2 separate regions of the Homo sapiens genome follow, and region 2 is linked to region 1. The links come from fine-mapping of genetic effects on gene expression. Tissue or cell type: breast. Region 1 holds a variant in brackets; the other region holds the start of a gene. All regions are shown on one strand. Distances are between the middles of the regions.

The links. PIP is the estimated chance that this variant, and not a neighbour inherited with it, causes the effect.
Region 2: it holds the start of TARS1-DT, and the variant in region 1 is fine-mapped to the expression of TARS1-DT in breast (GTEx, PIP 0.97).

What each region holds. Positions count from the first base shown.
Region 1 is chr5:33,581,249-33,589,453 of GRCh38, forward strand. It overlaps ADAMTS12 (ADAM metallopeptidase with thrombospondin type 1 motif 12), which reads right to left. Exons shown (of 24, transcript NM_030955.4): 18 at 7,351-7,561. Among named protein-coding and RNA genes, the nearest start is that of TARS1, 140 kb to the left of the region's middle. RefSeq lists a silencer at 7,608-7,657. The variant C/T (reference allele first, on the strand shown) is at 4,415.
Region 2 is chr5:33,437,023-33,445,167 of GRCh38, forward strand. It overlaps TARS1-DT (TARS1 divergent transcript), which reads right to left and starts at 3,612. Exons shown (of 3, transcript XR_001742630.2): 1 at 3,183-3,612. TARS1 (threonyl-tRNA synthetase 1) reads left to right here and starts at 3,943. Exons shown (of 19, transcript NM_152295.5): 1 at 3,943-4,121. The coding sequence starts at 4,065. RefSeq lists enhancers at 3,289-3,876, 3,531-3,840, 3,941-4,130, 4,391-4,450, 4,465-5,051.

The DNA.
Region 1 (8,205 bases):
ACTTCAGCTATGATTATCGTATGCCCTTTCCTTGTAATTTTGAACCCTGGACCAGGAAAGCAGCATGTCAACCTGTTAACCTGCTCTTTGGGAGTCATTTTGCCCTCACTTATCACCATCCTGGATACAGGCCTCTTGTCGGGGAACCCACTGAGAAAGAGGTTTGCTGCCCAATTTATCAACTCCACCCACCTGTGGTCCACTGTGGTGGGTGAAAAGGCTCACAATTGGCACTGAGCTGTAGTGCTGAGAAAGGGTTTATTCGAAAACACAGTCGGAGTTTATCAGAGGGTTTGGGCTAAAGGGCTGAGTAGAGAAACAGTGAATACTTTGGGCATTAAAACATTTAATGCACAATCTCAGAAATTTATAAATGAATAATTAGATCTCATACAAACACCAGCTTTGAAAGCAAGCTAAAACACATAGGTATCTGTTTTGGGTTGAATTGTGTCCCTCTCAAAAAAGATATGTCAAAATCCCAATGCCCCCAATCTCAGAATTTGACCTTATTTGGAGAAAGGATCTTTAAAAAGGTAATCAAGTTACAATAAGGTCATTAGGGTGGGCCCTAATGGTATCCACATCAAAAGGGGAATCTGAACACAGAGATCACAGGCAGGTAGAATGTCATGTGAAGATGAAGGCAGAGATTGGAGTGATGCATTTACAAGCCAATGAGCACCAAAGATTGACGTCAAACCACCAGAAGCTGGGGGAAAGGCGTGGAACAATTCATCCTCCCAGCTTTCAGAAGGAATTCACTTTGCCAACACCTTGACCTTGGATTTGTAGCTTCTGCACATGTGAGACAACAAATTCCTGTTGTTTAATCTGCCCAGTTTGTGGTACTTCATTAGGGCAGCCCTCGGGAGCTAAGATAATAAAAAAAAATCAGACCTAGATAATTAAAACAAATCAGACCTGAGGAGGACAATCAACATAGCTCTCAGCTGGTTTTCTGTGAGTAGTTGTTGCAAACAGAGGTGCCCATATCTGTTCCCCAGGAACCCTGGCAGAGCACAGGCTACTGATGCCTGGGAAGAACTGAGATGTTGATGAATGACACTCCACACCAAAAGAGGGAGTGACAAGGTCAGAACATCAGGTGGCCAGCCCCACAGGAGTGCCTGGGACTGGGGAATCCAGAGGGTCAGCGACTCTCAAAAATGCCCCTATCCCTCCATGCTCTCTTCCCTCGGGTGGCAGGGACTTCACATGAGTCTAGCTTTGCTTCCCACTTAGCAATAGACATAGCATTGCCATTTGCTGCCACGTCTTCTATCCCAAGAGCCAGAGAGCTCATTTGTGAACATCGGCATTCGGTCTATTTGGTCACTCTGCATTCCAACACCCCTGTGATGAGCTTTGTACTTTATCGATTCTCAGTACCTTGGTTAAGTGAATGTTTTGTTTGTGTGTTTTTGTCAGGCGCAGGAAGGGCCAGTTAAAGATCTTCCTAGACTCTGTGTGTGTCTGCTTTTAGAGCCTCCACCTCATGTCCCATCAAATATATTCAAATGCATTTCTTGTCTCAAGTGAAACGTAACTTTTGCTATAAAAAACATTTGAAATTATTTTTTTCCATTCCAGTTTTAAAAAATGTTTATGGGTACATAGTAGGTGTATATATTTATGGGGTACATGAGATGTTTTGAAACAGGCATGCAATGTGAAATAAGCACGTCATAGAGAATGGGGTATCCACCCTCTCAAGCTTTTATCCTTCGAGTTACAAACAATCTAATTATACTCTTTAAGTTATTTTAAAATGTGTAATTAAGTTATTATTGACTATAGTCACCTCATTGTACTATCAAATAGTAGGTCTTATTCATTCTTTCTATTTTTTTTTTGTACCCATTAATCATCCCCACCTTCCCTGCAAACTCTCGCTACTGTTTCTAGCCTCTAGTAACTATCCTTCTACTCTCTATGTCCATAAGTTCAATTGTTTTGATTTTTAGAGCCCTAAAATAAGTTAGAACATGCAATGTTTCCCTTTCTGTGCCTGGCTTATTTCACTTCACATAATGATCTCCAGTTTATCCACGTTGTTGCAAATGACTGAATCTCATTCATTCCTATGGCTGAATAGTACTCCACCATGCATATGCACCACATTTTCTTTATCTAGTCGTCTGTTGAGGGACACTTGGGTTGCTTCCAAATCTTAGCTATTGCAAACAGCGCTGCAACAAACATAGGAGTGCAGATATCCCTTTGATAGACTGGTTTCCTTTCTTTTTGGTATATACCCAGCAGTGGGATTGCTGGATCACGTGATAGCTTAACTTTTACGTTTTTGAGGAACCTCCAAACTGCTCTCCACAGTGGTTAAACTATTTACATTCCTACCAACAGTGTACGAGGGTTCCCTTTTCTCCACATCCTCACCAGCATTTGCTTTTGCCGTCTTTTGGATGTAAGCCATTTTAACTGGAATAAAAGTTGTATCTCATTATAGTTTTGATTTGCATTTCTCTGATGATCAACGATATTGAGCACCTTTTCATATGCCTGCTTGCCATTAGTATGCCTTCTTTTGAGAAATGTCTATTGAAATCTTTTGTGAAAGGCTTTATTTTTTTCCTGCGCTTTTGAAGTTATTCACTGAGGGTAACATTTAATTTTGGGGAGGCTCTGATTTCTCAGCAATTGTCATGCATAGTCTGAAATTCCAACAGAATGAGAAAAGCCAGTCTACAAATAATTTCCAAACACAAAACATTTCTTATGAATACTAAGAGCTGTCATATTGCTACACTTTGCAGATATTTGAGATGCAGTATGGCAAAGTGTACATTCAGAGTAGACGCTGTGCTGCCTGCGTTCAAATCCTGGCTCCGTGGTTTAGTGGTTATGTGACCTTGGACAAATTTCTAAATGTTTCTATGCCTCAGTTTCTTCACTTGTATTAATAAAATGGGGCTAAATAAGTCATGGTGAAGATTAAATGTGCTAATACCCATAAAAGTACTTAATAGATACATACATAATACATAGTAATAATACATACAAAATGCTTGGTATGTATTTCCTATTAATATGTAATTAAATATTGATTTCTGATTTTGCAGGGTCCTTTTGTTTTTATAGATGCAATGCATGAGGTTTTTTTTTTCAGGTCTCAAATGTTGTGCAGGCCCTTGAAAAATCTGTAGGCCCCAAGCACTGCGCTTATAGTGTTTCATGCATAAAATGAATGAGCTCCCTGAGCTCAAGGAGAGGATAGGTGAAAACTTAAGGGGCCACAAATCAGTTCCTTCAGCACATTTGGGTACGACTGATTGAACAAGGTTTGCAAAATCAGAGTAGCATGGAAAACAGACTTTTGTCTTCTTGTCTGATAATAATTTAGTGAACACTTACTTTTTACCAGGCACTACGCTAAGTGTTTGCATGAATTATCTTATTCAATTCTTACAATAATCCTATCTTTCTCAGTGACAACAGGCTAAGAGAGAATTAGCACTGGCTCAAGGCCACACAATTAGATTGCCAGGGCTGGAAAACCTAGAAAAATTACCACCTATCATTACTATTAGTCTAATTACTAGGAGAAATAACATGTTGGTTCATAATTGAGCAAACTGAGGTCCTATAAGGAAAAATCATTTTCCTAAGACTGTTCAATATGCAATACAAGTTTATGCAATACAAGTTTATGCAATACAAGGCCAGAACTAAGATGGTTTCTCCATGATCTCAGCCAGGACTCTTCCCACTTCCCTTTCTGCCAAGGATGCACTAGTCAAACATTTATTAAGTACATGGTGGTTATCCATGTATCCATCCATCCATCCATCCATCCATCCATCCATCCATCCATCCCTCCAAGGAAAAAGATGGCATAGGTTTTTACAAAGTATCTGACTAAACCATTGGAGCCATGATTAAAAATCTCATATAATTTTGGCAATTTATTTTAAAGCTCTCATTGGGGGTACCAGGGGTGTCTCTTGAAGAAGAGGTACCCTTCCATCTATCAAAAAGAAAGAATTATGGAACCCACTGGGCTGCCCTTATTGCCCTGGTTGTCTGGATGCACTGGGTTAAACTGAAAGCTTCATCAAAATAACCCTATTATTCTCATGTTTATCATGTTGCTCTCTGCTCCCACGTGTGGCTACAACTTCTAGTTCACCACTTCAATGTCTAGAGCCCTTTTATTGTAAACTGCCTGAAATGCCTTTGGAAAGGAAAACTGTATAAACAAACACACACATCCTGGCTTCTGGAGTGTCCTGTTTGCCACACATACACATTTGAACCCAGGAAGCCATGCTCTAGGGGCTGTGCCCTTCACTACTAGACTGGCTGCCTCTCACAAGGCATGTCCCTGAAATGGTGTATCTGGGAAGTAAGGGAGTCACAGTAACTTTGATACCTGGTCTCTGTTTACAATAGAGTT[C/T]CCTTCTTTACCCTTTAAGTCCACAAAGTAGGATGGGCAAAACCAGGATAAGATTCTTGGTAAAACCTGAGATTGGAGGTGAGAGTCAGGTATCTAGAACATAAGCTTAGAGAAAAGGGGCTGGTCACAGGGGGCAGGAAAGCCTGTCTGGGGCAGCAGGGGAGAGAGCTCCCCTTTCTGATCCCTGCTGGGACAGGGATGAGTGTACCAACCTGGCACGGCTGAGCCCACTCTCTCCTCACTGCTTGAGTTGGTGGAGTGCTTTGATAAGGAAAGGAGCTCATGAATGTACTTCCTCTTTCTTCTCACTTAGTTCAGCCCAGAGAAGGCCATTTTACAGGAGTCTAGAAGGCTGTCAGTTCTTGGGCCTTTTGGATAAGTAACTTTACAGTTTTAGACCATCCAGGGTGATGAAAATGACAAATGCAGATGAAAATGACACAGTGCAGACCAAATGATGGCTGGAGCACTATCCTGCTTCAAATGATGTTGGTCTCCAGACAAAATCTAGATAATAAATACTGCCTGCCAAGAATCACTATGTCACCTCTCTTTAAAAAAAGTATCTGGGCATAGTTAGAATGTCAAAGACATTTCATCATACTCCAGCAAAGTTCATTAGGAGGTTATTAGTAAGAGAGCAGATAGAAGAAAGGAAGACCCATTTGATGAATATTTTGATACTGATTTAACTAAAAGCACTTCCAATGACATCTTCTGAATGAGGGCATTGGCCCAGCCTTTCTGCTCAGCTCTGTCAAGTGGAAGCTAGAAACTGTCCATGTGTGGTCCATTGACTATGCAATGGCCTACATATGGAATCACAGACCCAAGTGCTTCTTACATCATGCCAACTTTTTGGTCTCTTGTTCTCCAGTTAAGACAGGTTACTACGCTTCCCATAAACGTGAACACATTAAGAAGAACTCCTCAGCCAAATCTGTAATTGCAGTCCTCTGAAAAAGCATTAAGATGTTGGCAATTAGTAAATTCTACATGACAAGAATTATTAACAGTTTTGGATGCGGCCAACACATTTTTGGTAAACAGATTTAATAGGCCAGTCACAATACTCCATTCAGCCTTATTTTGACAACACTGTAATTCACAGAAACCTAGGTTGCAGTGGACTAATAAGGCAGGCCAACCAAATGCCGTGATTATACTCTCCCAGGAATAGCAAAAAGAATGTATGGCTTATCACTGATGTGTGTACATACATCTGTGCATGAATCAGTAATACACCCATATTTGTATGTAGGTATATTTCTTTGCATGCATATCTTTATCCTTCCTTTCCTTTTTTCTTTTTCTTTTCTGGATCCCATCTCTCCCACTGGATGGAAGTTCTTACCATCTAGGGACCATATTTTCTGTTTCTTTTTTTTTTTTTAATTTCACCTAGATGCCCAAGAGAACATCCTGTACAGATTCAGAAGGTAAATAAACCTAAACTGTGACATAAGCTAATAAAAGGGAGTCTTGGAAATAAGGTTTCATCAAAGCTGCTGTATTTAAATGAGTGTTTTGCTTTCAAATAGGTATCTTCAGAGATGGTATCTTTGCTTACACAAATTTTAGAATTTTTCTTTCAGAGCAGGTGAAAAGCAATCTGTCACATATTTATCATCAAATATTTTTTAAACACAAAGATTTTGATCACATTATTCATTTATCCATCAGGCCCCATTCTAATTGACTTTCTGTGGCATTCTCCTGAATCAGATATTCTCCATTTTCTCCTGAGTCCTCACAGGAGTTCCTAAAATATCCTGAGCAATGGTGGCATTATTGTTATTATTATTATTTTGAGACAGGGTCTCACTTTCTCACCTAGGCTGGAGTACAGTGGCATGATATCAGCTCACTACAGCCTCGATCTCCCAGTCTCAAGCGATCCTCCTGCCTCAGCCACCCAAGTAGCTGGGACTACAGGCATGTGCCACCATGACTGGCTAATTGTATTTTTCATAGAGATGGTGTTTCATCATGTTGCTTGGGCTGGTCTCAAACTCCTAAGCTCAAGTGATCCTCCTTCCTCGGCCTCCTAAAGTGCTGGGATTACAGGTGCCTGTCCAGTGGTAGCATTATCATGGAAGCATACGGCTTCTCAAGGAAGCTCGTAAGATAAAGTCAGCATCCATCTCTAAACTCTGGCCTGTTAATTTTTAAAAAACATGTATTTTCTAGTTATTCTTAGGTTGTTCACTGAACTGCACATAGAGAAGCAGAGCTGAGGCCCTTGGAGACTTTGGGGCCTTCCACTAATAACTGGGAACATGACAATGCCTGATGAAACCAGATTCCAAAGTGACCCAAAGAAAATTAAAGCCTGAGAGAGCTTTTCATAACCTTCCAGCTTACTGATTTCCAATTATAGTCAGATAATTAGATCAAATTAATTTTGGGAAAATGCAACATTTATCTGAACTTGTGTGTCTGATAATAGATGTTAGAAACCTTGGTCTGGTTTGGACTTGACACATGGTGAATAGATGGATAATTTGAGGGGATTTTTCTCAGTGTCAAGCGACACTCTTTTGGTTTGGGTTAACTACAGTGATGTGCAGTCAATGTTTTATAAACCACTTTTGGGGTGTGTGGGAGGTCCCTTATCTGCTACCAGTGGTTTAACAATGGGCCTGGCCAAGCTTCTGATGATTTATTAACTAGTCTTTGTGATCCTGTACTGGGAGTGGGGGGTCTACCTCACCCCTGTCAGATAGTAAGCTGACCATTGAGCAAGTGGGAGCAAGATCCCCTATGAATGGAAAATAAGTAGTGGACACAGGAAAGGCAGGAGACAGGCCAGGGGTGATGAACACTGGCTATTTTGCAATTTTACCTAGGGTCACTTTGGATTGGATAATGAGAAGGAAGGCAGGGGCTGATGAAGCTTGAATAATGCCAGTTTCCCCGCCGAGCCCTGAGCTCACCTCACTCCAGTTGCCCACTGTCCAGTCCGAGGGGCACAGGATGTCTCTGTTGCAGGAAAGGAGGGTCTTGGGCTTCAGCAGGTGCTGGCAGTCTGTGGGCGGGAGAGCCTGCTCGTCAGAGACCATGGTCTGGATGCACAGCACGGTTCGCTTCTTCTCCCCGTGGGGCCCGCATGTCGCCGAGCATGCTTCCCACTCCCCTGCCCACCACCTGCAGGCAAACATGGATATGTGAGAGAAGATCGCCAACTTACGCATATGTTCCATTCAACCACTGAGAAAGCAGGGGCAGAAATGCAGATCACAGGGCTGGAAGGGCCATGGAGACACTCCAACCCACTAGGGGGCGTGCTGCAGACAGGGCCACCGTGTCTTCAATCATAGCTCCGTAGCTCTGCAGGGCGCCTGGCATGAGCTGTTGCTAAATACGCATGTTTTTGAATGAGAAAAAAATATATATGCATGCCCTCTCTTTTCAGGAAGAAAACTGAGGTCCAGGGTTCTGCTGTGCAACTTTAAGCAAGTTTAAGCCTCGCTTTCTCATTATTCAATGGGTGTGAAAATATATTTTCTTTATATGAGTGTTGTGTTGTACATGAAATGAAAGACCAATTCATGTAATGTGCATAGTACAGAGCCTGACATATAACAAGAACTCAAGCATTTGTTATGATTTATTGTTATTTTGACCATGCTATTGAATAAAAGAGTCCAATTAGACTCTAGGTCTCCTGGCTCTTAATTGAATGTAAAGTAGCTACTTAAACATAAATTTTTAAATTATTTAGGAGGCGATCAATCAGGGATATTGCCTTTATTTTTTTCCCTATCTCCTGCAGTCTACTTGTTAATATT
Region 2 (8,145 bases), 140 kb before region 1:
ATTGCAGCACTATTCACAATAGCAAAGACTTGGAACCAACCCAAATGTCCAACAATGATAGACTGGATTAAGAAAATATGGCACATATACACCATGGAATACTATGCAGCCATAAAAAATGATGAGTTCATGTCCTTTGTAGGGACATGGATGAAGCTGGAAACCATCATTCTCAGCAAACTATCATAAGGACAAAAAACCAAACACCGCATGTCCTCACTCATAGGTGGGAATTGAACAATGGGAACACCTGGACACTGGAAGGGGAACATCACACACCGGGGCCTGTTGTGGGGTTGGGGGACGGGGGAGGGATAGCATTAGGAGATATAACTAATGTAAATGACGAGTTAATGGGTGCAGCACACCAACATGGCACATGTATACATATGTAACAAACCTGCACGTTGTGCACATGTACCCTAGAACTTAAAGTATAATAAAAATATATTTAAAAAAAGAAACGCCTTCTGCTTTTTCTTTTTGCCATACTTAAATGAGGACTGTTTTTAAAGTTGAAAGAGAACAAAGAGTTAAGAGAAGCTGCTAGAAACAATGTTATATAGCAGTTAAATATAATTGTTAGCCTATCATTTTCTGCATCCAGCAAATTCAGGAATCTTGATCTCTCTGGTTTTCATTATACTTAGTTAAAATTAAGATACAATTCAGGCAAATGTGTCTAATGAGCATAATTAAATTGTTTTACATTAAAAGGTAAGATTAGATCCTATTGATTCTCATTCTAATTTAAATGTGGGGAGTTAGTTTGGTCTATTTAAGCCTATTAAAATTGTACATAACTCCTGGAATATCAAGCACTACTAATAATCTACTCTCATCATAAACTTTCTTCTAGATCTAGTTAGTAAAGGGGTTTTGACTTCTTTTATAATACAAATAAAGAGGTAATTTTCCAAACCTTGCTTGAAAAATTAAGCAAGTTTTGTCTCAACACTCAACATTTATTGAACATCTGCTGTGCGATAGGTTTACATCTTCCAGATGCTGGCAAAAATACACAAAGTGTGCTTTCGTGAAGTTTTCAATCAAGGAGATAAAATATATTTTAAAAAAACTATAAACTTGCAAGGTAGGAGAAGAGCTTAAGCTCAGGAGTTTGAGACAAGTCTGGGTAACATAGTGAGACCTCATGTCTACTAAAAATTAAAAAATATATATATTAGCCGAGCGTGGTGGTGTGCACCTGTAGTCCCAGCTGTTCAGGAGACTGTGGCGAGGGGATCAATTGAGCCTGGGAGATCAAGGCTGCAGTGAGCTGTGATCACACCACTGCACTCCAGCCTGGGCAACAGAGCAAGACTCTGTCTCAAAAATAAATAAATGGATAGATAGATAGAATAAAAAATAAGAAAAAATTAACTGGGTGTGGTGGTGTGTGCCTGCAGTCCTACCTACTTGGGAAGCTGAGGCAGAAGGACTGCTTGAGTACAGCAGTTTGAGTCTGTAGTGAGCTATGATTGTGCCACTGCACTCCAGCCTGGGTAATGGAGCAAGACCTCATCTCAAAGAAAAAAGAAAAGAAAAGGACTATTATTAAAATCAAGGTGTCAGCTAAAGAGCAGTTATATATATATACACACACACACACACACACACACATATGTATATGTGTATACATATATATGTAATCTGCAAATTAGGTAGCTAATATTGCATAACTCTGTTCTCCTAGCACCTTTTCAAGTTACCCTTAGCCTTTGTCAGGACCTCGCTAGACTAGATTCTTTACCTAGAAGGATAGCCCAAACCTTCCTTCCTTCCTTGTCTTTGTTGGGTTCCCAGAGTTTTCCAACAGCGAAACATTAGACAAGGAAGTACTAAAAAAGGTCTCAGTGAATCTCCTGGGTTCTTGACAAAATTCTCCTTTATGTAGAAGAAACCCGCTTGTCCCCTTGTAATCAGGATCAATCACTCTGGACAGAAAAACAACCCCCAATTCTGCCTGTGAGTGTAGCAGTACGTGAAGCCCCACATAGGGTGTACTCTTAGGCCAACTGATCAGAACCATTACTGTGCATATATATATATATAATATATGTATATACATATACGTATGTGTATATGTGTGTGTGTGTGTATATATATATATATATACACATATATAGTAAACTTGCTTAGCTCTAAATACACACATAGTGAAAGAACAAGTTGAACCGGTAAGTTCTACCAAGAACCACATGAAACTACCAGCAGACACTATTGTAAGCGCCAAGGGGACCTTTCTCCTTGGCCCTCTGAGGTTTGGCTGAAAATCACTAACATGAGGAACATTAATAGAAAAAACATACAAATTTACTTAACGTGTATACACAGGAAGAATCACAGCGTGATTACCCACCCCTCAGAGGGCTTCAGAAGCTTGTGGATACAATCCCAGCGACACAGGTTATGATAGGGAGAAGAGGAATTCTGTTGAGGGATTACAAAGGAGAATGAATGTATCAGGAACACATTAATTTGTACAACATCTTGTGAAAGGGTCTGCTCAGGTGTGATTACTACATTCTTGGTCTTACAGGGAGGCAACAAAAACAATTATGTTCCTTGTGATGTGTCTAAACTTTATCCTTTGCTTTGGCAGAGATGGCGTGGGGATTTAGGGGAGTGGGACCTTGAGGCTTCTTCAGTTCAGATGTCAAAACGCCATTATTTGGGGGTATGTTTCTGCGCCTCCAACACTGTTTAACAGGGAGGCTTGTTTCATCCAGTAAGGGAGTCAAGAAATGGTTCCCCGAAGAAAACGATTCTTGAAATCTGACAATAAATGAGGTGTCAAACAGGCAAAAAGTGTGTCGGAATGAGCACGGATGAGGGTAGGGTGGAAAAATCTTGGTACTTAGTCTGTGGGAAGACCTGAGGAAAAAAAGCCACTACAGTTTATAGTTCAGTGTATGGTGGGCGAACGAGATGAAGCCGAAAACTTGGACAATCAGGGATTGTCCAAGAGCAAGGGAAAGCCACCAAAGATTTTTCAGCAGATTGCCGTGATCATATTTGTATTTGAAGACTACAACGATGCTGTATGAAAAATGGATGCACAAAGCCGAATTGGGAAGCTATTGTTCCTGGAAAGTATAACCCTGAAGGCGGAGAGTTGTAGAGAACAGAACTGATGTTTAAAAAGAAAAATCCACAAAACGTGGTGGTGGAGCACGTACCTGAAGTTATGCCTATTGCGCTTCTGATTTCAAATAAGTAATTGTTTTAAATTGCCTACTAACATAAAAAAGCCCAGTCGATTCCAAACACTGGCACCCAGGCGTGAGAATCCATGGTTATTTCCTTGGGTGAGCTTTATTGTATTTTTGCGGGCGCTATGGAAATGCTCCTCCAGGCAGTACAGATCAGCAGCGGCTCGTAGTGAAGAACGTTCAAGGAAGAGTTTGTCCCGGATCAACAGGACATGGGGCTTGGGAAGCCTGGACTGCCATGAGGAAGGTCGATTCACCACTACAGACAGGGAGCCTGAGGCCTGGGTGGTGCCGACAAGTCGGCAGTCACGCCAGGTCAGGAAGCGCCGAAGCCGCGGGAAACCCTGGACTCCATCCCGGGATTTGTCCCCGTGTCGAAGATGGTATCCAGGTCGCCGAAAACTTCCCGGAAGTTTAGACCAAGACCTACTTATTATCTACGGTGTCCGGGAAGGTCCATGATTGTTCCACATAAAGTCAGAAGGGAGGAAAGGCGCACGCGCATTGGGGACTTGACTCTGGAAAGCGTCCAGACCAAGGTCAGCGGAGAGTAGGCATGTAGCTTCTGCAGTTGCTCCTCCTCACCCTCCGCGACCTGATTTCCTAGAAGGGCTCTGTCACCCGAAAAGATTTTCCACTGGCTTAGAGGAGGGAGGGCCCGCCTTCCCCCGTTATCCATTGGCTGCTCGTTCCGCCGCAAGTTGGGGGCGGGGTTAGGGCGCCTTTCGATTGCATCAGCTGGTCCAGCCGAGGCCAAGTCCCGGGCGCTAGCCCACCTCCCACCCGCCTCTTGGCTCCTCTCCTCTAGGCCGTCGCTTTCGGGTTCTCTCATCGCTTCGTCGTTCGCCAATGTTTGAGGAGAAGGCCAGCAGTCCTTCAGGGAAGATGGGAGGCGAGGAGAAGCCGGTGAGCAAACTTGGTGGGACCCAGAGACCAGCCTGGGACTCTAGTGGGTGCAGACGCTACGCTCGCGGCGGGAGCGGGGGGCAGGAAGCAGGAAGCGGCCGGGACCGCGTGGGTCGGAGAAGTGGGGGATGGTGGGACTCCTGGAAAGTCGGAACCCCCTTTGGGAACCATCCATTCATAAATTAGGGTGGGGCCTTGCAGTTCATCTGTGGGTCCATTCTCTTTACAGATGAGGAAACAGACCTTGAGTGAGCGACTTGTTCAGAGCCTCACATCTACAGTAGTTAGACGCGGAGACAGAATCAGAATCTTAGGCTTGAGGCTTCCAAACTTGCGTTTATGGCTTACTGTAAGCGGGAAACACATTGCAGAGCCTTATTTAATCAATCTCCTAAGATCCTGCGGGGGTAAAGAGCTCCATTTTAAGGAAAGGAAAACCGAGTGCCCGAGATCTGACCCAGCTTGTCCAAGTTTGGGTGGTTAAGTATACATTTTGCCCGGCACTGATCTGGGCGGTGCATGTGGGAAGATGAATAGGGCCCAGTTCCCCGACTTTGAGGGCCTCACAGGCTGATGTGTAAGAGACAGGAAAACAGCCCTAGTGCTTTGTGATCAACCTTGTGGTATTACAGAAGAGGAAGTTTAGGAAGGCACTTTAGAATTTAGTTTGGAAGAATGATTTCACCAGGTAAACAGGCAGGACGGGGCTTCCCACGTAAAGGTAGGGAAGGCAGTGAAAAGGGGCACGCAGGTGAATTGTCTTTCGGGTTGTTTGCAAGAGATATGCCAGAAGGGTTAAAGGAACAGTAATCAGAAGGATCTTAGGCAACAAGGATGTTTGAAACTTGTATTCTATACATGAAGGATCTTAAGCAGGAAGATTGTATTTGTAAAAGTCACGCTGGCATTGGGATAGAAGGTTAGGCCACATGCAGAAGGCTGTTGTAATAGTCCAAGTGAGAAGTGGTGACGTCTTCAGCTAAGGGATCCTCTATCCCAAGTCTGTGACAGGACAGTTCACTTAAAAGCCAAATTTTTTTCTTGATTGTCCACTCGAGATTGAATGGAGAAACTGCATACGGGCACATTCTAACTATGTAAATTTAATTCTAGATGATAAATGGTGACTATACGTAGATTTTTTTCACATAAAATGATATTTTTACTGTTTTGTAACTTTTTTTTTTTTTTTTTTTTTTGCTTAATAGAATGTGGTCAACAACTTTCCATGTCCATAAATATTCTCCTGTGCTATTCTTAATTGGACGTGATATGTATGGTTAACACATATGTAATTTTTCCTTCCTGTAATAATTATACAATAGTTAATATTTATTTTGAGTACTAAATACGAGTTTGGCACTGTATTAATGCATTCCATGAATTAACTCATTCAGTCTTCTTTTTTTTGAGACGGAGTCTCGCTCTGTCACTCAGGCTGGAGTGCCGTGGTGCGATCTCGGCTCACTGCAAGCTCCACCTCCCGGGTTCATGCCATTCTCCTGCCTCAGCCACCAGGCCTGGCTAATTTTTTGTATTTTTAGTAGAGACGGGGTTTCACCGTGTTAGCCAGGATGGTCTCGATCTCCTGACCTCGTGATCCGCCCGTCTCGGCCTCCCAAAGTTCTTGGATTACAGGCGTGATCCACCGCGCCCGGCCTCATTCAGTCTTCTTAATAACGCTGTGAAGTGGGTTCTGTTATTATCTCCATTATACAGATGAGAAAGCAGGCGTAGGAACAGTAACTTGCTCAAACCCAGTATCCCCGTTTTTTTCCTTCCTCAAACCCAGTATCCTATAGCCAATACTAATAACCCCTGTGCTGTTCTGAGTGAGTCAGGGACAGATCATTCCTGAGAAAGGTAATTCTGTAGCTTCTCTTCACAATCCGGTTCTGTTTCCCAACTTTTGGGTTGAGATTTTAGATTACTTGTATGTAGATGTACATACCATATATACTCAGGGAAATAGAGAACAGTTGCCTACTCTCTTCCCAGTGTTGTAGAAAAGGGGTCATAGGCCTCAGGGTTCCAGAGAGACCTGTTGTAATTTCCCAGCTCTATTACTTAATGATACAAATGGGCAAGTTACTTCTTTGAGCCAGTGTTCTTGTTTGTAAAATGGAGCCGTATTTAGAACCAGAAAACCTTTGTGGTGATTCCCTCTCTCTCTCTCCCTCTCTCTCTCTCTCTCTCTCTCTCTCTCTCTCTCTCTCTCACTACCCCTGTTCATTTGGCAAATGGTCAAAACCAAAATAATCTTATCAGAAATATAAAACTTATTTTATCATCTTTCCATTTTAAACCTGCACAGACCTGCAATTTTTCTTTCTTTTTTTTTTTTTTTTTGTTGTCGTTGTTGTTGTTGAAATGGAGTCTTGCTCTGTCTCCCAGGCTGGAGTGCAGTGGCGCGATCTCTGCTCACTGCAAGCTCCGCCTCCCGGGTTCCAGCCATTCTCCTGCCTCAGCCTCCCGAGTAGCTGGGACTACAGGCACCCGCCACCACGCCCGGCTAATTTTTTTTGTATTTTTTAGTAGAGACGGGGTTTCACCGTGTTAGCCAGGATGGTCTCGATCTCCTGACCTCGTGATCTGCCCGCCTCGGCCTCCCAAAGTGCTGGGATTACAGGCATGAGCCACCGCGCCCAGCCGCAATTTTTCTTTTTACCCAGTATACTTGATCAGTTACATCACTTCTGCAGTATAACAAAGGCTCTATTGAATCTAAATGAACCTTTAAAGTTTATTAAATCCAGACTTCTGGAGTAGGGGGGATTTTAGCTCAGCATGAAATTAGGAGTCATATTTTAAAATTAGTTTTTTTTTTAATTATACAAGTAACGCATTTTATAGGATTTAAAAGACAATGGCCAAAATGTCCATCAACTGATAAATGGATAAGTAAGCAATGGAATATTATTTGATAATAAAAAGGTACAATGACAAGTATTGATGCATGTTACAACCTGATGATCTTGAAATTATTATGCTAACTAAAAGAAGCCTGTCACAAAAGACCACATAATGTGTGATTCTATTTATATGAAATTCCCAGAATAGGCAAATCTATAGAAACAGAAACTAGGTTAATGGTTGCCAGGGTCTGGAGATGAAGGCAACAGGGAGTAAACTGCTAATGGGTACAAGGTTTCTTTTTGAGGGTGATGAAAATACTCTAAAATTGATGGTAGTGATAGTTGCAAAACAGTGAATACCTAAAAACCATTGAATTGTGTACTTTACATGGGTAACTTGTATGGTATATGAATTGTATCTTAAAACTTAAGAAAACTAAAGGTCACAAACATGCAAACTAATTAAAATCCCTGTTTACATTCCTGGCACAGGATTTATTACTTTAAAACTTTCTATGACTTCACTTGCTTCTAATTGAAGTCTGTATTCCTTATGGTAACTTTTAGTTCTTGCTTCTGTGAGCCTTAGTCTGTCTTACCTTGTATTACTTTCTAAAACAATCCTTCATTAATCAGCCTGGTTTAGTCATTTTTTCTCTCTTTAAATTTTAACATTTCTGACAACAAGCTTATGTGTACACATAGGACACATTTCCTGTATTCTCAGAATCCACCTGTTGAAATGCATTCCATCCTTTAAAACGCTAGTCCTAGCTTATTTGACATCTAATCGTAGCGTTACTACTGTGTTTTCTCCTCCGGGAGTTTCTCACACATGTATGCCTTACTTTCCCTGGAGAGACTAGGTTTACACATGGTAGGGATTGGGCCTTATGTTTGCTTCTTCCATGGCTTTTGTTAGCACTGGTGGAATTCATGGGCACACTTTGCATTCAGTTTTTTTTTTTTTCCCCTGGAAATATGCTTACTGAATCAACTGCGTGCTTCCTTGTGGCCATATGTTTGGTATGTGGTCCAAGTAAACCTGAAGCGAGAGTCACAAGAATAGTTAAAATAAAATAAATGAAATTTGAGGAGTTAAACATCGTTAGTAACTCCTTCCTACTTTTTAAAGACTTGCCTTTATTGTAAGTTGTTAACCTGTCTTT